Regions from separate parts of the Homo sapiens genome. Here region 2 is linked to region 1. Evidence: fine-mapped expression QTL. Tissue or cell type: whole blood. Region 1 holds a variant in brackets; the other region holds the start of a gene. All regions are shown on one strand. Distances are between the middles of the regions.

Evidence for each region. PIP is the estimated chance that this variant, and not a neighbour inherited with it, causes the effect.
Region 2: it holds the start of SPON1, and the variant in region 1 is fine-mapped to the expression of SPON1 in whole blood (INTERVAL, PIP above 0.99).

The regions. Positions count from the first base shown.
Region 1 is chr11:13,909,299-13,919,516 of GRCh38, reverse strand. No RefSeq gene overlaps it. Among named protein-coding and RNA genes, the nearest start is that of LINC02683, 10 kb to the left of the region's middle. The variant A/GTA (reference allele first, on the strand shown) is at 4,965.
Region 2 is chr11:13,957,000-13,967,217 of GRCh38, reverse strand. It overlaps SPON1 (spondin 1), which reads right to left and starts at 4,495. Exons shown (of 16, transcript NM_006108.4): 1 at 4,076-4,495. The coding sequence starts at 4,313. It overlaps LOC124902637 (a long non-coding RNA gene), which reads right to left and starts at 4,061. Exons shown (of 2, transcript XR_007062602.1): 1 at 2,173-4,061; 2 at 1-177. RefSeq lists an enhancer at 692-1,210.

The sequences.
Region 1 (10,218 bases):
TTCTCAATGATTTTGCTCTTCCATACCTCTATTTGTTCAGTTTGTATGTTTTTGAACATACATTTGTCTTTGTCTTAATTGCCCACTTTCCCGTCTTTCCTCCCCAATTTGCAAAAGTTTATTGATCATTCAAGATCAAGGTCAAATACCTCTTTCAAATTCAAAATCTAGGTCAAATGTCCATGACTTCTTGGGGCTGTTAATTGCCCCCTCCTAATACTCCAAACGTATCTCCATTATAGCACTTTATCACATTCTATTAATTCATCCTTCTATCTGGCTCTTTCTCATTGCACACAAGGATCTAGAGGGCAGACCTTGGGGCTTCTTCCTCCCTACATCTCCAAGGTCTCCCACAGTTCCTGGTCTAGGGTAGGCTTGTAATCAGTGCTTGTTGAATGAATGTGATCCCTGAAGCTTTCACACTCACGGTTGGTCTTAACTGGTATTTTGCAAGAATTATATTCCACCCCCTAGTTGAGGCATGCTCATGTTTAGACACAGAAGAAGAAAATATGGAATATTGTTGCTGTGGAAACTAACTTGGAAAATGACTTTCTTTTCTCCTTTATATAAATGTACAAGTCATATCTCATGGCTAAGTGGTCTATGAGTACTTACATAATGACACTGAAAGCCTCAAGCCTGCTCCCAAGGCGTTCTGTGGCAGTCAGCAATGCAGACCATGGAACACGTTCCCTGTGCCATTCTAGCATATAATCTTTCTCACTTTGATGCCCAGTTGCTGGGTTAAATATTGTTTTCAGTCTATCCTACAATAAAATTATTGCACTTCAGTGGATTTCTGTTTGGAGATTTTAAATATTTTAAAACCACACAATATAACAATTTTCAAAAGAAAAAACACTTATCTATTATTTTTAAAAGCTCCTTTCAAAAGCCTGTATTCTGTCCTAGTACTTGGGATCAGCCCACATGGAAAGCTTCTCTAAAGATTCTATAGGAATATTTTACATTTCTTCCTATGTATTCCTACAAGAAAGGTGCTAAAATAATAGCACAATACCTTGCATTTGTGATATTTTCTTCTGACCAATTATCTTACTAGAAGAAACCTGTGGGAATTTTATTACTTTTCTCACCTTTGTGGACCAAAGACTATTTTCATGTATGAAGACTTCCACGTCCTGTCTGATCTCTGGGGTCCTATAACTTGACTTTTACCATGTTGATAACTTTCTTGGCTTTCAATCTAAACTGCAGTGTCAGCCCAAATATCCTTACCCAAAGATTGCAAAAATGGGAGGGAGGGTTCTAATTTTAACCTGTGTAGGATACTTCATACTAGCATTTTTAAGGAGGCTTCATGACAGTATTCAAGATTTCTTCATGTGCTTTACACACAGCAGGGATGCCTCGTGTAATAAATGTATAACCCACATGTAAGCTGATTTGGCAAAGGGTCCCAGATGTTACACAAATAGGCCTCCTGAGGCCGGGAACTGGGAAATGCCTATGGTTGTTTCATCATTCAGCTGTGGAGAAAACAGTGTGAAAGGAAAATTAAAATCTCAGGACCCTCAAACTCACTATGCCAAAGGGAAAGGTCAAACTTGGGGACTGAGTCAATCCAAACTTCCCCCCATTTTGTTCTTAAATAGATAGTTACAAAGATAAAAGGCTACATACCTCCCTCACAATTTGCTCACAAGGCAATTCCTTGTGGGCCCCAAGATCTTTACCCTAAATCAGTTCTGTTGAATTTCACCTTGACAATGTAAATTAACAGCTTATCTTCACGGATATAGAACCAAGGACAGAACCAGAAGTCATCTCTCCATTCACCTGAGATGAATGCATGTTTGACTGCTTCCTCTACTCTATGTTTACTTCATCTTATGTAACAATGCAGATTCACAGAGCATGAGATGAATGCATAACTGACTCTTCCTCGATCCCCTCCTTTTACATGTAAAACATGGATTCAGTGAAGGCTGATCAAAGACTCAAAACAATGACACTGCTTCCCCCTTTTATCTAACCTTCTCCTTCTTTTTTCACTTCTCTTTCCCCTACTGCCCACTCTTTCCCCTTTAAAAGCTGAAGTTCCCAAACCCTCTTTGGAAAAAGCACAGATCACAGATGTTCCTGTGGTTTTGTGTTCCTTTTTCTTAGGTATGTCCTCAACCTTGGCAAAATAAACCTCTGAAATGATTGTGACTCACTTCAGTCATTCTCATTGATTTGCATCAGAAAAGATAAAATTTAACTCATGGGGTTGTTAAAAAGATGAATTAGACGTGCATATGGATAATGTAGGGTTCCTTGGGGTTTTGTCTTTTTGTCTTTGCATGCTCTACACTAGCCCTGGATGACCTCATCTGCACATGTTTGGGATATGCACACACAACACATACACACGCACACACACTCTTTGTTTTGTGTGGGTGTGTGTATTGTGTGTGTATCCCAAATATGCACAGTTCAGATTTTACCCAGGGGTTTAAGATGCACACACTCAACTGTATAGTTTGGATTTTCCAGTCACCTTGAGCACAATATATGCAAAACTAAACTCACCCTCGGCCTTACCAAATCAGCTTCTCTTCCTTCATCTCCATTTTGGTAAGTGGCACTGCCATCTAAGCCAGAAACCTGGAACCCTCAATTCCCTTCACACTCTTTGCCCACCCTTTATTTCCAATCACTCCCTAAGCCCTGCTGATTCTAAATCCAAATATAACTGGAACCCACTTGCTTATCTCCATCTTTTCCCACTGCCTTGGTAAAAGCCTCCAGTCTTTTTCACCTGAGCTACTGAAGCAGCTTCTGGTCAGGCCTCTTGCCTACAGCCTTGCTCTTCAATTTAGTCTTCATGACTGATTGAGTCCTCTCGCTAAAGCACACATCTTCTCTCCTTTAAACCCTTTTATGGCCTCCTATTCTCACCTGAACAAAGTCCAAGCTAATTATGATCCTCTTGATCCATTTTCCCCCCACATTCCACATTCACCCACACTGAGTATCTTTTAGTGTCTCAAACACGCCATTACTTTTCATCTTCAGGTCTTTGCCCTGGAGCTGATAGGGTCAAGACCAGGAGTTATTAAATTACAAATAGAGAAAACCCTAGGATTTCTCCTCTGTTTTTTATAGTGAGATGTTTTCATTCACCTCTCTCTTAAACTCCAGACACGTATTTTCAACTGTTATGCAGACATCTTCATTTGGATGTTTAATAGACATCTCAAAATTTACCACATCTCATACCTTAAGGTAATAAAAGCCATCTGTGACAAGCCAACCTTATACTGAAAGAGGAAAAGTTGAAAGCATTCCCCCTGAGAACTGGAACAAGACAAAAGGGCTACTGTTGGCTAATGATATGATCGTATACCTAGAAAACCCTAAAGACTCAACCTAAAACCTCCTAGAACTGGTAAATGAATTCAGCAAAGCTTTCAGGATACAAAATCAATGTACGCACATCAATAGCTCTGCTATACACCAACTGAGACCAAGCTGAGAATCAAATCACGAACTGAACCCCTTTCACAATACTTGCAAGAAAAATAAAATACTTAGGAATACACCTAACCAAAGATGTGAAAGACCTCTACAAGGAAAACTACAAAACACTGCTGAGAGAAATCATAGATGACACAAATGGAAACACATTCCTGCTCATGAATGGGTAGAATCAATATTGTGAAAATGACCACACTGCCAAAAACGATCTACAAATTCAATCCAATTCCCATCAAAATACCACCATCAGTTTTCACAGAACTAGAAAAAACAATCCTAAAATTCATATGGAACCAAAAAAGAGCCCACATAGCCAAAGCAAGACTAAGCAAAAAGAACAAATCTAGAGGCATCACATTGCCCAATTTCAAACTATACTATAAGGCCATAGTCACCAGAACAGTCTGATACTGGTATAAAAATAGGCTCATAGACCAATGGAACAGAATAGAGAACATAGAAATAAAGCCAGATACTTACAGCCAACTGATCTTTGACAAAGCAAATAAAAACATACAGTGTGGAAAGGACACCCTTTTCAACAAATGGTGCTGAGATAATTGGCAAGCCACATGTAGAAGAATGAAACTGGATCCTCATCTCTCACTTTATACAAAAATCAACTCTAGATGGATGAAAAACTTAAATCTAAGACCTGAAACCATTAATATTCTAAAAGATAACATCAGAAAAATCCTTCCAGACATTGACTTAGGCAAAGACTTCATGACCAAGAACCCAAAAGCAAATGCAACAAAAACAAAGATAAGTAGATGGGACTTAATTAAACTAAAGAGCTTCTGCACAGCAAAATAAATAATCAGCAGAGTTAACAGACAACCCACAGAGTGGGAGAAAATCTTCACAAGCTATACATCTGACAAAGGACTAATATTCAGAATCTACAAAGAACTCAAACAAATCAGCAAGAAAAAAAAAACAAACAATCCCATCAAAAAGTGGGCTAAGGACATGAACAGACAATTCTCCAAAGAAGATACACAAAAGGCCAACAAGCATATGGAAAAATGCTCAACATCACTGATTATCAGGGAAATGTAAATCAAAACCACGGTGCATACCACCTCACTCCTGCAAGAATGGCCATAATCAAACAATTAAAAAAAAATAGAAGTTGGCATGGATGCAGTGAAAAGGGAACACTTTTACACTGTTGGTGGGAATGTAAACTAGTACAACAACTACTTAAAACAGTAAGGAGATTCCTTAAAGAACTAAAAGTCGACCTACTGTTTGATCCAGCAATCCCACTACTAGGTATCCACCCAGAGGAAAAGAAGTCATTATATGAAAAAGACAATTGTACACACGTTTATAGCAGCACAATTTGCAATTGTAAAAATATGGAACCAGCCCAAATGCCCATCAACAAATGAGTAGTTAAAAAATGTGATATGTATATGTATATATATATATATATATACATGTGTGTATATATATATATGTGTGTGTGT[A/GTA]TATATATATATATACACACACACATATACACTCCATGGAATACTACTCAGTCATAAAAAGGAATGAAATAATGGCATTCACGGCAACCTGGAAGAAATTGGAGACTAATATGCTAAGTGAAGTAATTCAGGAATGGAAAATCAAGATTGTATGTTCTCACTCATATGTGGGAGCTCAGCTATGAGGATTCAAAGGCATAAGAATGATACATTTGACTTTAGGGACTTGGGGAAAAGGGTTGGGGGTGGTAAGAGATAAAAGACTACACATTGGGTACGGTGTACACCGCTCAGGTGATGGGTGCACCAAAATCTCAGAAATCACCACCAAAGAACTTATTCATGTAACCAAACACCATCTGTTCCCCAAAAACCTATTGAAATAAAAAAAATTTTTAAAAATTACCACATCTCAAACTGCTCTCCTCTGTCAATAAATCTTACCATTCTCCTTAACACATCACAGCTCACACACAAGGTGTTTTACTTTTTATTTTGTTTACTATCAGTCTTCTCCACTGTTTTTCTGTTTTGTTCAATAATGAATTCCCAGAGCCTAGTACAGTTCCTGACACACACGGGACATTCAATAAATGTTTGGTAAATGAATGTATGACCCTACAGCAACAGAATGAAGAGGGATTGAAACCTATCTGGAATTCCCCAGGTCTGGATAGCCACAGTGCAGTAGAAAGATCATAAGTTTCGTCAGGCACACTTGCCTAGTTGTATGACCTAGGATACCTCACTTAACCTCTTTGAGACATTTTTCTCATTTTGTGAGCTAGCTTACAAGACTGCTATGAGTGAATGGATATAATTGGCTTTAACCATACCATGGTTGGTGCTTAACACATATTCTTATATTCCTAACTCCAGGTTTGACAAAGACTCCTGGAAGCCTCAAAAACTTGTCAAGTTTAGCAAGCCTTATCCAGAGCAGACCTTAGATGAGGCAACTCAAGACTTAATCAAACCGTGTTCTATAAGGAGCTCATTTCATTTAAAGTGCTGTAGCTCTTACTGGGGGGACCAGGGTTTAGTGTGAGTGTCAAGTGAAAATCACATTCTTATAAACAGCTGCTCAAGGCCTGGTCTCCTTGAGAGAAATTGGGGGCATGATCTCTCCTTGCTACCTATTTCTCCTAACTCATTGGGAAGTGTTTATTGGCGACATTGTTTACTGATCTTGGAGTACTGTGACTTGCCCTCTCACATAATGCCTAATATCTGTGCACTTATTTATAAAGTTCCCTCTGGTGCAGTGTGGCCAACAGTCATTCAAGGGGGCTAAATTAGGAAGGGAGATACCAGATGCCCAAAGTTTCTGGTGAAATGAGATGGAAATCCAGATTTGCCTAATGCTTATGATTGTCAGGGCAAAAGAAAATCCAGTCCTTTTCTGATGTGAACTTGTTAAGGCATATTTGTGTGATGATATTTGCAGATACCCTGCAAAGGCACAGATGGTTGTTGACGTTTCAAAGGAACCAGTCAAGAAAAAATGTTGGACATGAAGAAAATGGGCATACCGAATAAGAATCATAGACTAATAAAGCTAAGTGAAGCCTTAGGAATCCTCGATTTTGAAGATGAGAAAAATGAAGCACAAAGACATGAAATGATCCACCTAGGGTCACATGTTAATAAAAAGGAGACAGACAACTCAAATCCTGTTGTTTGGAGTCTCAGGCTATATTAGTCCATTCTCACACTGCTATAAAGAAATGCCTGAGACTGGGTAATTTGTAAAGAAAAGAGGTTTAATGGGATCATGGTTTTGCAGTCTGTATAGGAACCATAGTGGCTTCTGCTTCTGGAGAGGCCTTAGGAAACTTACAATTATGGCAGAAGGTGAAGGGGAAGCAGGCATGTCTTACATGGCCAGAGCAGGAGAAAGGGAAGAGTGAGGAGGTGCTATACACTTAACCAGATCTCAGGATAACTCACTCACTCACTATCATGAGAACAGCACCGAGGGATGGTACTAACCCATTCATGAAGGGCCACCCCCATGATCAAATCACCTCCCACCAGGCCCCAACTCCAACACTGGGGATTACAATTCAACATGAGATTTGGTGGGGACATAGAGCCAAATCATATCACAGGCCTAAGTGATATGTGCTTTTTACCACAATATTCTTAAAGCAAGGAAAGAGAGGTCTAAAGAGGCAAGATGACCCTAGTGCTCAATGACATTTTTAAGATTTTCTCCATGGTCAGATTAAAAGGACCTAAAACAGGTCAGCATTTAACATATGAGAAAATGTATATGAAAGTGCACTGTAAATTATAAAATGTTGCCTAAATATTGGGTCATTTACTGATTAAATAAATGAGGTTAAAAAATAAAATGGTCTGAGCAGATGGATGTAATTGTACAGTATTACACATTACATTTTAATGGCTACCAAACATATCAAAGTGATTTCACCTGCTTTGTCAGCTGTTTCATTGATTCTTTGTTGCTGACTCTAGCAGAGGTAACACATCGACCACAAATTTGCACAAAGAAAATGTGCAGGAAAATTAACTTGCACACAGTGTTTCTTTATTAAGATTTTTTCAATTATAAAAAAGAATATATAAGTATATTATTGTATAGTATTTGGAAAATATAAAAGAAAATAATGAAAGTTACCTGAAAAACTGCCCTTGATAACAAATACTATTAAAATTTTGGTGTTTTTTTATCTAAAAAATTTAAACCTGTAAGTACATACTGTATATACAGTTTAAAATACCATATCTTCAAATGACATTACTTAGTGACTATTTTTTCATTAGTCTTTAAGAATAGTATAATTGGTTATATATTATTTCATTATACAGAACCATGATAATTTATTAACTATTGTTGGACAGTTACCTTGTTACCAAACTTTCACTATACTAAGATTTCTGAAATGAAAGGGATACCTGTTTGGCCACACTTTTGGTTTTCATCCTTCTTGGAGTAAATTCATAGAAGTTGAATTATTAGATCGAAGACTTTGATGATTTTTAATGTTCCTCATAAGGACTGATCATTTGCTTTTCAGAGAATGTGACTTATTTATATGACCCCCTAGCACTGTGTGTAAATATACATCTCACCACACCCTTGCTAGCATTGTCATTTAAAATAGTTGACAGTGGGTGAAAGTTTGATGAGAAACAGGATATTTCCATGGTGTCAAAATAAATTCCCACAAGACATTTAATAACCACAGGGAGAAAAATAATTTTATGCTAGAAAAATCTGGCAGACACCACGTTAACCAAGAGATCAAAGTTGCTAGAATTGATAATGACACTAATTAACATCATGTTCCTCATAATACAATGAACTGAGAAGGATACAACATGACTTCTGAGATATCCTTGCCAAAAATAGAAAACTTGAATCTAGTAATAGGGAAACATCAGACAAACCCAAACTGAGAGACACACAACAAAATAAATAATCTGTGTTCTTCAAAAATGTCTACATCACTGGCATTTAATATTTTCTGATATCTCTTGTGATTGAATTCCCTTCCCCATTATGTTATCTGAATGGTATTACTGCCATTGAGGAAAGCTACTGAATTTTGTACTTTTTTTTGGTGTGCCATCATTTTACTTATTATGAACTAATATTAAGAGCTTTCAGCTGGTTATCTTGCAGTTTTTAAAAGATATATAATCATATTGTCTGAAAATAACAATAATGTGTCTCTTCCTTTCTGATAATCTTACCTCTTATTTCTGCCTCATGTCTTATTGCATCAGATAGAATTTCCAGAACAGTGTTACGTGACAATGGAGACATCTAGCATCTCTGCCACTTCCTGGATTTAATGGGAATGATTCTGGTTTTTTAACATTAAAGATAATGCAGGCTGTCAATATGAAATATTATATATTAAAGGAAGTATCTTCCTATTCCTAGTTTTCTATGAGGATTTTTTTTCCAAATCAGGCATGAATGTTAAATTTTTCTGAATACCTTTTTGTCATCTATTGAGATTATCATACAATTTTTTATATTGGAGTTGTTGAACTAACGCCATTATATTAACAGATTTTTCTAACATAAAACTACCCTTGCTTCTCTGGAATAAACCATATTTAGCTGCAGTAGGTTATTCTCTTAATATTTTATTTTGTTATTATTATATTTTGTCATTATTATATTTTGTCCTTTTCCAACTCTGTGGTGGATTTGTATTGCATCAACTTAATTTAGCTGGAACTACATCTCCAGAATTCTCTACATAGTTCTGGGTTAGCTGGGCCACAACCAACAATTGTGTGAGATTAGGAAGGTGAACGTGAAGTAGGAGCCGTATTCACTTTACACTCACAAGGTTGGTGCAGCACACAAGGCATTGGTGCTTGGTACCTGCTGTTACTGTTCTGCTGGCTTGCCTGGTTAGGATGAGACAGCAGCTGGGTCTGTAGCTCCTCCAGATTCTGCTGGGCCAATGTCTTCTGCTTCACTGATTCCTGGGCTAGACACACTTCAGCTACATGAGGAAAAGTACCTATTTCTCCCACCAATGCCACTCTATGGAGGCTTGGGGACAGTGAGAAACTGGTGTAGGTTTTAACCTGTCTTTGCAGGTTCCAGTTTTGCTGCCCCCAGTTCATGTCCATCTTTCTTTCCTCATTGCCTGCCTTTCTGATTTCAGATTCCAGCCTGAAACACAGAAACAATAGCTGTACATAAACATTTAACCAGCTCCCACAATTGTATAAGGTCCAATCTGTATAATATATCCTCATTTTATATAAACCCTAATGTTTCTTCTGCTCTTATCAAATCTTTATCAAAACACCATTCATAAGATTGTTTTAAATATGTTCTGATTATTTTTTGTTGGCTCCATGAGATTCATTCTCTGAGCATCAGGAATGTGGTAGTAGCTTAGCTGGGTGATTCTGGCTCAGGGTATCTCATGCAATTGTAGTCAAGATGTCAGCTGGGACTGTGGTCATCTGAAGGCTTGACTGGGGCTGGAGGATGTGTTCCAAATGCACTCACATGACCACTGGCAGGAAGCCTCAAGGTCTTACCCTGTGGGCCTTTCCATAGGGTTGCTGGAGCCTCCTACAAAATAGCAGCTGGCCTTCCCCAGAACAAGAAATCCAAAAGAGAATGAGGAGGAAGTTACATGCCTTTGAGTCTCAAAAGTCATACACTATCACCTCTGCCATATTCTGTCCATTCAAAAGGAGTCACTAAGTCCAGCCCACACTCAAGCAGAGGAGAGATAAGCTCCACCTC
Region 2 (10,218 bases), 48 kb before region 1:
TCATTGAGTCAGCACATAAGACTGGTTAAGAGCACAGATTTAGGAGTCAGACAGACCTGAGACTGTATCCTGATTCTGCTGATTATTAGCTGTGTGACCATGGATAAGGAATAAACTTCTCTGAGGTTTAGTCTTCTCATCCATAAAACAGTAACGATCAGAAACTTCCTCAAAGTACTGTAAGGAATAAGTGAGATGAGTCGGAAGAACTTAACACAATATCTTATCCAGGGCTTTGCTGCTAAGTATTTTTCTATTTCCAAAATAATCATCTCATAACATATTTTTTTAGCAACCACTGTGTGACAATTTCTTTTGACATGAATTATTTCTAATTCTCACAGGAATGCTGGGAAAAAATCAAAACACCCTCATTTTACAGATGGAGAAATTGGCTCAGAGAGGTGAAGTGGCTTCCTGAGATCACACAGTGAATATGTGACCAAGGAGGACCTGAAACCAACCCACCCAACATCAAAGCCTGTGCGCTTTCCACCAGGCTGAGGTGTCCACCCCTGTGGTCAGTGTGTGTCTCAGTGTGGGACAAAGGAAAAACCATGCAGCTTTGGAGGTCTCCAAACCTCCCAGTTTAGGATAAACCCCTCAATTATGCTTGAAGTTGGACCAGCTTTTGAAACCTCTACTGGACATTCTTTTCCCATCAAGTTCCTTGAAATGTCTCTTTAAAATACATCTAGGAAAAGCCACTCTCATTAGCCAGAGTCTGACTTTATTTTCCTAATAAACAGACCTCCAGTAAGACAAAAGAGCCTCTTTTATTTTCAATCAATTCTTGAATATTTCAGTGGATTTTCTTCTGTTTGGCTTGAAATTGTGATCTGGGAAAGGCTGGTCCTGCGAATTGTCCTCCTGTATAAGGGAAGCCCCTTGAGGATCCTCAACTTGTTATTTTTAATCACTGTAATCTCCTTTTCAAAGGAGGCCCTGGCCAGAAACAGAGCAGGCCTTTCAGAGCTTTCTAAAGCACAATTATTGCCGTTGGAGGGAGGGGGGACTGTGGGAAGAGGGAGGGAGAGTAGAGAGAAGTGGTGGGAAAGAAAAGGAAATCAATATAATACTAACAACTTGGAAAAGACAAAATAATGATCTCAACTGGATTCAGGTTTTGGGGAAGAAACTCCATGTTTCAGTCTTTTTTAATAGTGACCATTTTATTCCGGTCTAGAGTACCTAAAGACTGTACTTAGACAGCAGGCACAAAGAACAGAAGCTGCTTGGGGATGAACTGGAATACTGTGGACAAAGATTTGAGGCAGGAAAACAAGTCATTGATTCCAAGGATTGTGAGGAATCCTAATTCATGAAAAAATTAAAAAGCAAATAGAACACCAGGGGAATGCCAGCTTCACAGCCTTAAGTCAGGACAATGAGCAGAATGTGTTTGAGTTACTTTTAACATAATTATTCTAAGAAAGAAGGAGCCAACAGAAAATGTCACAAACTAGGCCAGTACCTTTTCTTTCGGACTTTGAGTGGCAGAATCAGGTTTGCTAATTGCAGGATATTTACTTGGAAAACCTCAGCATGGTTCCTGCAAGATCTCTTCCAAGGTCTTTTAGCCATAAGAAGGGAGAAAAGATGATTGCCCAATCTATAGCCTGAGTTGGGGTGTCAAAGTCCAGATGGCTGTTTAGGCAGGAGTAGCCTGTAGGGTGAAAGTCCAGGACACTCCCTATCCAGTCCCAGTTCCCCACCTGCTGGCCCTGGACGTTTAGGTAGTTCTGAAACCTCTTTGGCCCCGTGAATACCAGCTGTATCTCCTTCCCAGTGCTAGGGCCACCAGCTGCCAATGCTCAACTAAAACACGGAGGATTAGTGTGAAAAGAGACGCTGGGTACACTTGGCCTGAACCTCAGACTAGTCTAAGTCACTGAAAAAATCTTCCTGGGCTTGCATTAGCAACAGTCTTAGGCAAGGCTCCTGATATGAAAAAATACCTCATTCATTCATTCAATTAATTCATGAGGACCCAAATAACCACTGGTAGATGAATGGGACTGGAGGAGAGCTGAGGAAACCTGCTTTCAAACGCACAACACTCTTCAAAAACAAAAATCTGATCAAGAACCTACCTCCATTAGTAAACCAATAAAGGCCTCACATTCAACTGTTAGGCTTATTAGGAATCTCTTTTAGCTCAGGCACACTCACCTTTGTAAACTCATTTACTCCCTACCACCAAGAGAGGGTGGATAAACAGCTTTTTTTTTTTTCCAGCTAGGAAATAGGTGCAGAGAAATTAAATGACTTGCACAAGGTCACACAGCGAGTAAACCCAAGTCTGTTGGACTCCAGAGCCACTTCTTTCTCTGCTACGTGGAGCGGGGACAGTTTCCCCTGTGAACTCAGGTCCTCAGTTTTGGGGAGGGCCGAATAGGCCACTGAAGTCATACCCGCTTCCCTGCGGTCCACAGGGAGGATCGGCCGCCTCCCGGCTGCACCGAGTGGCAGTCGCCGCCCGTCGGCGCGGCTCGCTCTAGCCGCGGTGCCAAGCCGCGCGCTCCCTCCCGGGCTGGGCGGGGTGTTCTCCGCCCAGAATCTTTCTTCGTGGAGTACCCAGGATCCCGCGGAGCTGCGCGCCGGGGTCAGACTGTTCCTCGCAAAGTGCTCAGCACGCCAAGGTGCCAAGGGCACCAAGGAGCCGGCTTTGGGTAGCTCCGGGTGGAGAAAGTCGGGGACACAAACCCGGGAAAGGGGGAAAAGCGCTCCAAGAAGGGTGGCCCCTGGCTTTGGTCTCCGGCGTGACCCTGGCGCCCGCTGACGCTGCCCCAGACTTTCTCCTGTGTTGCTCCCACCGCTTCCGTCCAAGGCTCTCTGGGGAACTGGGAAGGCGAGGAGGAAAGTACAGCAGCTGGGAGCCCATTTGCCCCACCAGGTGCCCCAGTGACCCGCTCATCCCTGCTTAGCACCAGAGCTGACTTATGAAGGGGCGAGGGTGAGAGGACACGCTCCCTGGCGGGAGCTAAGGTGAGGCCAGACAGGCTCGCTTCCCTTCCTGGTTACCTGTCCCCCACCCGGAGAGCGGCTGCTGCTGCACGGGGAAACGATGTCTGGGGAGATGACCCTGCTGAGGAGCGAGGTGGCGGGCGTGGGGACAGAGTCAGGCGTCTTCAGATCGGTGCTGGTCGAACTGCCTGTCCCGCCTAGGAGGCTCTCACCTGCTTGGACACCTCCTCCCTGAGCTCCCGAAACCCCACTCTCAGCCGAGCGGCGTAGGCGCGACATCCCTGGGACGTGGAGACTCCGAGCTGCCGGAGCCAAGGTTCCCCGGCCTCCAGGGAGCAGGCCTCGGGCATCGGGGCTTCTCTTTCCATCTTCATCCAATTCCCCTTGCAGCTCGGAGCTTACCCCAAGCTCTTTGAGGACCCTGTCCCCACTGGGAACCTGTTCTGGAAACCCAAGATACTCTATCTCGTCTGGGACCACGAGAGAATAATTTGGGGTTCTTTCCAAGGACCCTTTCGAGGAGCTTTAGGCTGTCCCTGCCCCTCCTTCCCGCACCCCGGGACCGGTTAGGGAGAAGCCAAAGTCCCTTCTCCTGAAGGGACCTATCCAGGGAAGCCGGAGTGGCTGTCCCGCCCAGGGCCAGTCTTTGAGAATCGGGTACCCTCTCCTTCAGGGACTGAGCGGGGAAAGCTGGAGTGGCTGCCTTGCCCGGGACCCGACCAAGAGAAGCCTGGGTCCCCTCCAGACCGATTTGGAGAAAGGCAGTTTTACTTCCCTCCTGCAGACGGCCGGGGGAGAAGCGAGCCTCCCTTGCAGTCAGGCCGGCGTGACGTGTGGCTCAGTTACATCCTCCGCCTGGGAACCGCGCGTCGGAAACGCGGGGTGCCTCTCCTGGCTGCGGCCCCCGCGACGGCCCGGGACGCTGGATTATGATCCGCGCCGAGCTCGCGACTGCAAGGGCCGAGGGCAGCCAGGACAGAAGGGCCCTTGCCGGGCTGCACCCGCGCCACGCGCCCGGAGACCGCGCGCCCTCCTCCGGCACCGCGAGGTCGGCGCCCTCCGGGGACCGGGTCCCGCTCTCCTAATGCCACGCCGGGCGGCCACTTACCGCGGTAGCTGGTTCCCGGCTTGTAGAAGTCGGGGTCGCCCTCCACGCGGAGGCTGAACTCGGTGTAGCCCTCGCGCCGCGTGCCCTGGGCGCGCAGGATACGGCTGCAGTAGCCCTCTGACTTGGGCACTTTGTCCAGGGTCTCGTCGGAGAAGGCCAGCGCCGCGGCCAGGGGCAGCGCCAGGGCCAGCAGTGCCGGAGTCCGGCTCAGCTTCAGGGGCGCCGGGGACAGCCTCATCTTCGCGGCCCCCAACTTTGTGCCGCGGCCGCAGGCCTTCGCCACGCGACTCCTGCCCGAAGTGGTCCCGACGAAGGCGCGACCTGGCGGAGGCGCGGCGGAGAGAGGGAGCTCGGAGCTGGCGTCCGCGACTCGGAGACCGTGCCCGCCTCGGCTTGGCGGCCGCGGAGCTGCGCTGAGCTGAGCTGAGCTGAGCCAAGCGAACGAGAGCAGCGCGAGGAGGGGAGGGCCGCGGCGAAGGAGCGGGAGGAGGGAGGGCTGATTTTGCCCAGATCCCCCAGCGCAGCGCTGTTTTGTTTCCTCCGAACTGGCGATTAGCGGCGCGGCCGTGTTTATTTTGCGACGTTGGATTCCCAGGGTCTGACGAAGAAACCGTGGCATACCGGACCCTGTGGGCTCTGTCCCATCGCCTAGGAGGCTGCTGCTCCAACCCCCAGCTACACTCCGGACCCTCTGGAGGACGGCGCTCAGAGGAGGGAAAGCCTGAGAAATAACTTTTGTTGCACACCTGCTCTGTGCCTAGCAATATGCTTGGCGGCTTACTTACTGTATCGACTCGCCTTCATGTTCCCTACTCCCAATAAAGATTACATTACTTTCGCTCACTTTATAGATGAGCAAACTGTGACTTGCGACCAGTTACAGCAGGGTTAGATGCGGCGACTCCGGGCCCATTGCTCTTCCCAAGGCCATAGTGGAACATGTCAGACTGGAGGCTGAGAAAGGAGAAACGACTTAGCTACAGCGCTTAGGGCCCACGATACTTTTGGAGATCTATGAAAATGTTTTCTGTAAAAATCAGAAGAAAAAATTTATGTCAAACAAAATGTTTTACTATATAATGTTAATATATTTGTATTTATACCTCCACAGTCATAAAATATGCTTGACTTGGAGGAAAGAGCCAGCAAAGGCAAAAGTGCCTAAGGCTCAGGAAGGTCCTCCTACAGCCCAGGAAAGGAGTTTCCAAAGATTCAATGAAGAGCCTGTGTTTTCTTGGCTTACATTTTAGTTCAGATTCTCACTCCCCAGGGACAGATGTTCAGAGAGGTGCTGAGCCTGAGGGCCTGAAGGGAAAAGACCTGGGGCAAGAATCTCTCCCAGTGTCTCTCTGGGAAGAGACCCGAATCAAACCTCAGTCCTGCCACTCACCCATTGTGAAGCTTGGGCTAGTTATCGCACTCTCCAAGCTTGTTTCCTGCTCTGGAGAACAAGGAAGTGGGGGTGGGTGCCAGTACATCCTTCTTAGAGGTAGTGGGGTGATATGCTAGAAGTAAATGATATGACCCATATAAAACACTCTAGTTGGTCTCTAGTGGCGCCTGCTCCCTCACCCGCTTGGGGATACCATAAGCCCCCTGCCTCTCAGTGCACACAAACATCCCTCCCCAGGTGCCCTCAGAAGCTTTGGTTTCCTCGTCTTCTCTTTGCCCAGGGCCTTCGACACACCTCAAGTGCCTACAATTAGCAAGCAATCTCCTTTGCTTTCCAGGTCAGGGTTTTCTCTTTCATAATGCTACAAACAGGCCCAGGGCGCTAGGTGCATGGGAGATCTCCATTCCTCCCTGCCTGCCCACTTACTCCTTAGTGCTTGTGCTGGAATTCCCACTGCCACTATTAACTGGACGCCTTCTCTCAGAGGTCACCTGAAAGTAACCCCTTGCTGAAGCCAATTATGCTCTTCTCTCATCCCTAGCCCTTCTTGACCCTAGCAGCACCTGATCCAGCTGATCGGCCCTCCTTTTTGAGGTGAGGCTCAGATCCATGTCTGAGTGCTGAGGGAATTGTCTGCATCTTCACTCGACTGGCTCAGAGCTCATGCTGCACTCCAAGTTGCACGGTCCCATTCATCCAGCAAACTTTCATTAAGTGTAGATTTGGAGCTAGACTCTGTGCTGACCGGTAGGTAGAAGACGGAACAAAAATTCATCCATCCATCCATCCATGCATCCTTCTATCCATCCATTCATTCATGACAAAGACCCTCCACGTGCTCAGTGCTTGGATACAAAACACAGATATGTTACTTGCCTTTGAGGATTTTACAGGCCTGTGGCAAAGGCAAATATTAAATACATAATTATATGAATCTTTTAAAATTATAATTGTGATGTATGCTACAAACTAAAATAAGTGGTTCTTGAAAGTGTACCTGATCTTATCTCAGAGGGCAGGAAACTACAGAAATGAATAAATTGTGACCCCTGTCTTCACAAAGCTTATTTTATGTCTGAAAGCTCAAATCTGTGCTCTTGAACCTCTATTCATCTACAAAAGGTTCAAATCTAAGTTGGAGATGGGTGGGCATGAAGTAGGCAGGAATGCAATATTTAACTTTTTATTGGATATTGACAGGAAAACTATGGGAAGTAGGCAGTCCCAATTCACCTCCGCACTCCCATTGTTCAGATTAGGAGCCTATGAAATTACCTGCTGAGGTAATGTTCCATGGCTATTAAGGGAAAGAGCCAGGATTTAAAACAGGCATCCCCAACACCAAATGAGGTACTTTCCAGTACACAGTGTTCGCCCTATCATCTGGGCTATGACGGCAGGCTCTAACCAGCTCACCAAGCTCCAATCCCACTACATGAGCTAGGTTTTCCTAAACCAGCTTGGCTGTCACTCAGACCTCTGCTGTCTTCTCCACTCATCCGATCCATCACCACATCAAGTTTCACGCTCTTCTCCACCACTACCCCTGTCTGTGTTGACATCCTCTCTCATCTTCCTAACTGGGTTGCCCTTGTCTACTTGTGCTCTCCTTCCATCTGTCTTCTGCACTGAAGCCCAAGTGATCTTTTTAAAAATGCAGATTTGAATGTCAATCCTGAGGTTAACATTTTTTCTTGGTGGTTTTTCAGGGCTCTCAGAATAAAGACAGAATCTTCAGCCAGGCCTCCAAGGCTCTGCTTGATCTGCTTCTCCAGCCATGCAGCTCTTCTCTCATGGGCTTTGCCTGTGCTGTTCTCTCTGCCTGGAATCCTATCATGCTCTTTGGTCTCTCCTAGCCACCACTCTCCATTGGCCAACTCCTATGTACTCTTCAGATCTCAGTGCAAAACTGCCTCCCCAAAGAAGGCCTTTCTGATTTCCTAGAATAGATCCAGCCCCCAAAACTCTGCTGAAGCTCATGAGTACCTTTTCTTTTAATCTCCTCCTCCTCCTCCTCCTTCTTCTTCCTTCTTCCTCCTCCCTCTCCTCCTCCTCCTTCTTCTTTCTCCTTTCTCCTTTCCTCTTTCTTCTTTCTTCTTGAGGCAGGGTCTTCCTATGTTGCTCAGGTTGGTCTCAAACTCTTGGGCTCAAGCAATCTTCCTGCCTCAGCCTCCCAAAGTGTTGGGACTACAGGCATGAGCCACCACACCTGGCTTCTTTTAATATTAAGATTTATAATGACCCATTGATTTATAAGTTTGATGTTTAAAATTTTACATTTGTTCAGTATTTGTCTCCATTCTAAATTCTAAGCTCCAGAAGGGTAGGGGATGTCTATGGGGCTTACCACTGTATTTTCCGTGCACATCGTAGTGCCCGGCCCCTGGTAGGGGTTCCATAAATATTTTTTCTCTGAATAAAAACTTTTTAACAAGCCTACCCTCAGTGCCTTCTGACTCTGCCCAAATTTTAAGACTTGGCCTCTAAGGCCATCCACAATCTGGTCTCACTGTGTCCATCTGGTCATGCCTGGTCATAGATCCCAATCTGAGCTCCCAGCACCACCCAGCTGGGCTCCCCGTGTCCTCCACTTCAGTATTGCCTCAGCACCTTTGCTTACAGCTTTCTCATGGCCTGGAATGCCCTCCCTCCTCCTGCCTGATTAAATTTTCCTCCATAGAATGAGATCCTGCAGTCTCCCCTCCTGTGGACTTCAGTAGAACTGAGGAGGAGAAAAAGTTTCCCATTTTGACTACTGTGGTCCAGTGGATTGTCATGAACTATTTCATGTGTCTATTTCTCATCTCCTAGCAATGAATCCAGTTTACTTTCCCCTTAATTTCCTGTTCAGATGTTTTGTTCTTTTGTAAAATATACTGGACTTCAAGAAATCTCCTTCCAGTTTTTGTAGCCTAAGGCAGAGCTGATGTCAGTTGCTAGGGTGTTGCTAAGGAAAGTCATTTAGCCAGGGCAGATAATTAACTTTATCAGTGTGTGTGGGTAGGTCGCAGAAGAGAAGAGCTGGGGGCTCCAGTTCTCCAAGGCGAGAAAAGTCCTTTGATTCATAGGAGGTAAGATCTCCCTCTTTTTTCTCCCCGCTTTAAGAGAGAAGGGGGAAAAGGATTTTCTAGATTAGTGTTTTTCTGAGTATGGTCATTGAAACATGAGCATCAGATGTTTGCTTCAAAGGCAGATTCCGAAACCTCATCCCAGACCTACTAAATCTGTACTTTGAAGAAAAACTCATACTGAAGTTTAAGGAACCGTCGTCCTAGACCGTAATTCAGACTTGAAGTACATGGGTTCCAGGCTGGCTCTTCTGTTTTCACCATGTGAAGCTGTGCAGTCTTGGAAAGTCACAGGACCTATCTACACGGATTATGTGCAAAATTGGACATAGTAATACCCATCTTGCCTACCTTGTGGGATTTTGAGAAACAAATGGGTAACTGAGATAATTTGTAAACTGCAATGAGGTCACAATAACCCCACCCAGTTATTATTGTTACTTTTATTAATTCAGAAAAAGAGTCTAGAAACTTTATGTTTTTGTTTCTCTTATATATAGAGTTAAATTGGACATTTTATAGAAAGGGATTTCTAGAGAAAGAAAACAGATAGGCAATGAAGGAGTTGAATTGCACTGAATAATCTATTGTAATCTGTGGTGAGGAGGCCTGGAAGCTGTCTACAGGTGAGCCAGCAAGTTTAAAGACTAAGTTATGGAAACTGAATACATACGTACATACGGTAAAAAAAAAAAAAAAATCCTAAAAGCAAAAGACATTCATTAATTACAAAGATATTTCTTCAGAACCTGCTGTGTTCTAGGCATCAGCCAATTATATATAATTACATTACCTTTGGAATCCTGAATCTGATTGGGCCCATCCCACAATTCCATGTAAGGTATGAGCTCCTCCGATCACCCGTCTCTCCAGTCTTTTGGTCTCCATTCAGTTTTGCCCTTCCTTCTGCTCTCTGGAGCATTCCTCTATCGATTGCCCATTGCCGTATCCAGATCAACATTCTAGTAAGTAAGAGATAATAAGAGTCCCTCCTACATTAAAACTCCCAGCATCCAATTTATACTCCTTCATCCTATCTCCATCATCTGTAGCCTCCAGGTCACTTTCCTGCAGCCACTGTGGACTCTGCAACTGGCTCTCTAGCTTCCTGCCTATTGTCTCATGCTATGGGCCTGGGAGATTAGCCTGATGAAGTCTGAGCTGACAATTTAGTCTCTGCTCTAACCTCCTCTACTCCAATGAGCTTGGCCTCCCTCCATATCAGCAGCCCTCTCCCACAGAAACACCCTCTTCTTTGGGAATCTTGAGCTCCCAATAGCACTTTCTCATTTTACTTCCAGCTTTCCCATTTCTCACCTCCTCTATGTCATTGAGGTCTACAGCTGCTTAGTCACTTCTGATTTTTTCCAGCCCATCTTGTTAATTCCTTCCCCACCCAGCCTGGACACCATGTTCAATCATTTTAACTATATCCTAACCACCATTCTTCATTAGCTCTCCTCTTTTATTTCTGTTCCTCCTCTTTAACCCCCAACCTACAGCAAATCAACCAAGCAAAACAATGGAACCCTCCCCGACTTCTGAGTTCTGCTGCACAAAACCTGGTAACCCTGCCAATTACTTTACTACAAATGCATGAATTCTACCTTTAAGTATAGTTCTTAAATTTATTCCTAATCAGTTTCTTTTCCTATTCATCTAGTCCTTACCATCTTTTCAAG